2 separate regions of the Homo sapiens genome follow, and region 1 is linked to region 2. Evidence: fine-mapped expression QTL. A gene starts in region 2. The other region holds a variant in brackets. All regions are shown on one strand. Distances are from middle to middle. Region 1 overlaps MDGA1 (MAM domain containing glycosylphosphatidylinositol anchor 1). Region 2 holds the start of RNF8 (ring finger protein 8).

Region 1 (2,906 bases), 280 kb before region 2:
CATCAGCCCCAGTGGGCCCTTCCAGGTGAGTCCGTAGGGCCCAGAGGACCCTCCCCGGCTTCGGTGGTTGCTGTGGCCAGGAAACACTTAGGAAAACCTTGTCCTTCTTCCTGGGGGCTAAGGATGGAAAGAGTCAGGTTAGGGGGAACTTCCAGGTAGATTAAGGGGAAAGGTGGGGTCGAGGGAGCACTCTGGTACCCAGCAGAACCTCCTCAACCCTTGCTCCTTGCTTTCTGACCCCACCCCAGATTATTTTTGAGGGGGTTCGAGGCCCGGGCTACCTGGGGGATATTGCCATAGATGACGTCACACTGAAGAAGGGGGAGTGTCCCCGGAAGCAGACGGATCCCAATAAAGGTGCAAGACGGGAAGGAGGTGGGGGAGCTGAATCTGGAGGGAGCTGTGCGTGGCGGGGGTTCCTGTCTGTTGAGGGAGGGTGTTTGGGTCTGAATAGGGGTTCAGAATGTCTGAGTGATGGGAATCATGTGGCTCTGACTGTGTGAAGGTGTGCCCCACACTCACTCAGGCTGTGTACTTGTGTAAACAATGAGAAGCCTGGCCCCCACCCTCGTGATGAGCATACTGACCTGTTCACGGTATCAGAGCGCCTCCTGTGCCTGTGTCTGAATACATCTGTGCGTACCTCTGGCTCCAGAGGTGAACGTGTGCCTTCCAGGGCCAGAGGTTTCCAATACTAACAGCTCCTACTTACTGAGCAATTACTCTGTACCAGGCAAGGCACACAAACTTGTATATGCATGTTTCACTTACCTCACAACAGTTAATCCTCACAACAGTCCTTTGGGGTAGTACACACCATTGGACCCATTTTACAGATGAGGAAACTGAGGCCCACTGAGGTCAAGTAAATTGTTCCAAGTCTTAGTGAATGTGAACCCTGGCAGGCTGAGCTAACCCCCACCCCACCCCACGCCACCTCATGTCTGTGCGGTGAGTTTGTCTGTGTGCACTGAGGCCAGTGCCCACCCTCAGGCCCTCCAAAGAGGTGGGCAGAGTAACAGTGCCGACCTGCCTGCCACTTCCTGCCCCTGCCAGAGCTGACCAGAGCCCTGGCCTGTCTCCTCTTTCTCCCCTGTTGCAGTGGTGGTGATGCCGGGCAGTGGAGCCCCCTGCCAGTCCAGCCCACAGCTGTGGGGGCCCATGGCCATCTTCCTCTTGGCGTTGCAGAGATGATGAGAGCTGTGTGGCCACCCCCCCAACCTTGCCCCCGGCACACCAAAGTGTCCACATTGTACCAAAGACTGACCCCCGCCAGCTGGGGTGCCCAGGGGCAGGGCCGGCCCGCCAGGGAGGGGGCCTGCATTGGCTGCAAGGATGAGCAGAGAACAAGGACAGAGGCCAGGCACTGAGGCCCTGGAGACAGCTGTTCCACTTGCACACACGCACACACTCATGCTCACACACACAGAGATATATTAAAGCACAAGTTTCTATCTGACCTGCCAGCACCTTCTTTACTGCAAAGACAGGGGACTTGCCTGAATGGCATCCGCCAACCCAGGGACCTCGGCGCAACATAGGCCTTGTCCTTGCTGCACTCGTGGTGTGCTTCTGACTTTACCCTGTCCCCTAAGTCAAGGCCGAACTCCAGCCTGGTGGCTTTGCCAGAAGGGAGCCAGAAGTGGGGCAGACATGGAGCCCCTCCCTTGGTCAGACTCTGGGACTCCTGAGATGGGAGAGGCAGGGATCAGAGGACGAACAGGTGGGA[C/A]TTTGCGAGCTCTGTGACTGTCCCACGTCCAGGAGACAAGGAAGGTAGGGCACCTGCTGCACACGATTCTGTCCAGAGTGAGCACTGGATGGTGGAGACCATAGGTCACCCCAGATTCCTTGACCTATTTCTGGGACACCATATTTCCCTCCTCAGTGTGCACCCTTTGAAGGGACCCAGCACAGGGTCTTGGGCCTGGGCAGTCTGAAGACTGATAACTTCCCCACTCCACCCTACAAGCAGTGGGACTCCTGAGAACACGGTTCTCTCCTAGCCTCAGCCCCCAGCTGGGTCTCAGAGGAGCTGGGGGAGCGGTGGCCAGCCCATTTTCTGGGGTGAGGCTTGACTTGGAGAAAGGCAGAAGAGACGTCCCGCTTCTGTGATTTGGTGCCCCCATATCAGACAATGAATTTGGAAGTGGAGAGGGGCCTTCATTTCTTATCTACTTGGCATGAAAGGGTGCCCTGGATAGGAGGGTGTGTACAGGGCAAAATGCCAAAAAGCACTGTCTAGTTGAAAGTTCCCTTCTCCACCCAGGGGCAGTGAAGGAGGAGGGGCTTATAGAGCTGGGATTGGTGGAGGGAGCAGGTGCCAGTCCCCTCACTCTCTGGGAGCTGTGAAAGGGATCCCTGTCCTTGGGTCCTGGGTTAGGCACCTGAGATTGACATGATGGGATCTAGATCTTTCCTCCTTGACATCACCTGAGCCCCCACCTAGCCATCCATGGGAGAGAGAAGGCCCAGCCCCTTCTAGAATGACTCTTTAGGCATGCGTGCATATGTGTGTATGTGTTTGTGCCCGTCTGTGTCTAGGTACCACCGTGGGTACATTGTTGGGCAGGAGTGTGTGCAAACACAGGTCTGTGTGTGCAATCTCACATATCTGCCTGTGAGACTGGATTGAGACCCATTCGTTTCTATGAATGTCCGTGTACGTCAGCGTGTGTGTCCACCTTCCTGAGTGATGTGTTCGCTTGTAGGGTGCTGGCTGAATAGACTCTGTCCAGCCCTGTTCTGTAGTCTCAAGCTGCCTGCGATGGCCTGAAATTCCACCTTTCATCCCCTATGGATGACGGAGAGCTTACAGATGACCCTATTGAATGCAAGCACCTTTGGTGAGGAGCATCACAGGGCTCCTTCTGGAGCATTTGGTGGGGACAGCTGCAGAGAAGAGGCCT
Region 2 (2,906 bases):
CATTGTATAAATCCTCTCTCCCCACTCAAGCCTTAAACTCTTCGAGCGCAGAAATTTTATTTGTCCTCATTGTACACCAAACAATGTTAAATACTCAGTAAATACCTGGCAGACTGAATTGAGGCAGTACGGCTTATAGGAAAAATCTACCTGAACACACATGAGACTCAAAATACTTCTTGAATTTACATCATGACCAACCATCCACTTTTACTGCAAAGAGAACTTTTCATACAGATTATTTCCAAAACCCAAATGGTTCCCAGTCATCACAAGCTTGTCCCTGACCCAGTTCTCCTTCTCAACCTGATTGCAATCTAACTCCCTCCTCCCTTCCCTCGTCTTTTCAAGATGCACCACGCTGGTGCATCTTGAACCGTGCCAGGAACGGTACCTCATCTTTCCCCTTAAAATATTTTTCATTTGCAACTGCATTAATAAAGACGACAGGCAGCCTCTGGAGAGAACTCTGAATACCTGCCCGACCCACCTCAGGGAGTGCCACTCGGCCGTACCGAGCCTCACAGGAGAAATGTGGCCCAGCCCAAGCCGCCCATGTTCCTCAGAGTTGGGAAGGAGGAAGACATTTCTACGTGAAAGTTTGATTGCTTTAAGGGACAAAACCCAAAATTTGCAATCGTTTTCAAAACAAACTCGAGAAAGTTCAGGCGCCGGGCCCTGCCTCGGCTTCCCGGCAGCTCGCGGCCCCCGCCACCGTTCCCCGACCTGGCACCGCGGGGCTCTGTGCGCCCTAAACGGGATCTGGCCAGCCCCCGCCCTCCCCTCCTCGACACCCCCGCATCTCCTCACGTTCCCTGCGCGTCCCTCTCCTCCCAGTCCCCGGCCCAGCTACCCGCTGACCCAGGCCTCTCTGGACGGGGCCCGCTTCTCGCCCCACAGGCCGCGGGTCAGGGCCTCCGTCCTCGCCCCAACCCTTGTGGCCCCCCCGGGCTCCCCAGAGCCGAACTCTCTTTTCTTCCTTTCTCCCACTCGGCCCCTATTTCTCCCCCAAACACCTCCCACCGCAGACCCTTCAGCCGCTCGCGCCAGAACCGCTTTCTCCCTTCTCTCCCCAGGAATCCACCCCCCCCACAGACACTTCGCTCCTCTTCCTGATGCCCGCCTCCTCTCTGCCATTCATTCAGCCCAGCAAGACACCTTCCTCCCTCCCCGGAGCCCCGCTCCCTCCAGCCCCTGCCCTCCGCTCCACAGGACCCCTTCCCCCGTACCTCGCACCCATCTTCCAGCAGCAGCCACCCGGCGCTCATCCCCACCCGCCGCAGGCACCAGCTCCGGCCACCGGCGCGGTCTCCTGTGACGAAGAAGCCGGGCTCCCCCATCGCCTACTCGACCCCGGGGGCGGTCAGCACCGAGCGAGACCCTGACCTAGGTTCTGGCTGCCTCTGTGCATCCCCTCAGCTTCCATATCTAAATAACAGACAGAAGCAATCGCCACACGCTCGCGATCGCTGCGAAAGCAGGCTCCGCTCGCCCGCCCTCGGCCAGGAAGCAGGAGCACTACGCCTGCGCAAGAGGACGGCGGCCGCCCTGGAGCAAAGAGGGTGGGTTGGGAGCCAATCCGGCCCTGGGCGGGGCGGGCGCGATTCGAGAGGTCTCCTCGCCTCACACCTTCCCTCGCCGCCTCCAGAACCATCACCCCAGTCCTAGCCGCCCCAGACTGGAACCTCTTCTCACCTTTCCTCTTTTTAAAAAAGTCATGTGAAACTATAGCCCACTTTTAAACAACTTTAAACTTTCCATCGGATTTAAGTCTGCCTAGTCTGTTGCTAAATAGTCTCTATTTTGCACGACCTACTTATATTACCGAAGTAAAAAATAAATTACACTAGGCAAATCTACAAAGACAAAGAGCACAGTTACCTGGGGCGAGGTGTGGGAGCGGGTATTGAATGCAGATGGGCTTGAAAAAATTGGAGGAAAGCGGTAATAGAAATGTTCTAAAAGTGGATTGTGGTGACAATTGTACAACTGTATAAGTTTATTAAAAAGTCATGGAAGTGTGGCCGGACGCAGTGGCTCACGCCTGTAATCCCAGCACTTTGGGAGGTCGAGACGCGCGGATCACTTGAGTTCAGGAGTTGTGACCAACCTGGCCACATGGGGAGACACCGTATCTACAAAAAAAAAAAAAAAAAAAGGAGGAAGGGAGGGAGAGAAAGGAAAAAAGAAAAAAAAGAAAAATTAGCTAGGTGTGGTGGTGCACACCTGTAGTCCGGCTACTTGGGAGGCTGAGGTGGGAGGATCACCTGACCCCGGGAGGCAGAGGTTGCAGTGAGCCGACATGGCGCCACTGCATCCCAGCCTGGGCGACAGAGTGAGACCCTGTAAAGTGAAGAAAGTGTAAACTTCCAGTGGGTGAATTTTATGGCATGTAAATTATACTCAATAAAGCTGTTAATTTTATTATTATTATTACTGATTACAGACAGGGTCTCGCCCTGTCACCCAGGCTGGAGTGCAGCCTGGAGTGGTGCGATCTCAGCTCACTGCAACCTCCGCCTCCCGGGTTCAAGAGATTCTCCTGCCTCAGCCTCCAGAGTAGCTGGGATTACAGGCACGCGCCACCACGCCCGGCTAATTTTTATATTTTTTGGTAGATACCGGGTTTCGCCGTGTCTCCTGGATTCAAGTGATCCAACCGCCTCAGCCTCCCAAAGTGCTGAGATTACAAGCATGAGCCCCCGAGCCCGGCCAATTAAAAAATTGTTTTTAAACTCAGCCTCTCCTTTGGATTTTCCATATAGTGTGATAGCTGCTGCCTGCAGTGAGTACATCCAATGGTTGAGCCCCTTTTGTCTTTTCAGTTTTCCAACACCCAGTTAACAATTTCTTTCTTCTTTCTTTCCTTCCTTCCTTCTCTTTCTTTCTTTTCTTTTTTCTTTCTC

The links. PIP is the estimated chance that this variant, and not a neighbour inherited with it, causes the effect.
Region 1: its variant is the best candidate, but not a certain one, in a credible set for the expression of RNF8 in esophagus mucosa (GTEx, PIP 0.52).

What each region holds. Positions count from the first base shown.
Region 1 is chr6:37,635,656-37,638,561 of GRCh38, reverse strand. It overlaps MDGA1 (MAM domain containing glycosylphosphatidylinositol anchor 1), which reads left to right. Exons shown (of 17, transcript NM_153487.4): 15 at 1-25; 16 at 249-357; 17 at 1,103-2,906. The coding sequence ends at 1,194. Among named protein-coding and RNA genes, the nearest start is that of MDGA1, 61 kb to the left of the region's middle. The variant C/A (reference allele first, on the strand shown) is at 1,730.
Region 2 is chr6:37,352,599-37,355,504 of GRCh38, reverse strand. It overlaps RNF8 (ring finger protein 8), which reads right to left and starts at 1,522. Exons shown (of 8, transcript NM_003958.4): 1 at 1,230-1,522. The coding sequence starts at 1,340. RefSeq lists an enhancer at 1,220-1,269 and a silencer at 1,570-1,669.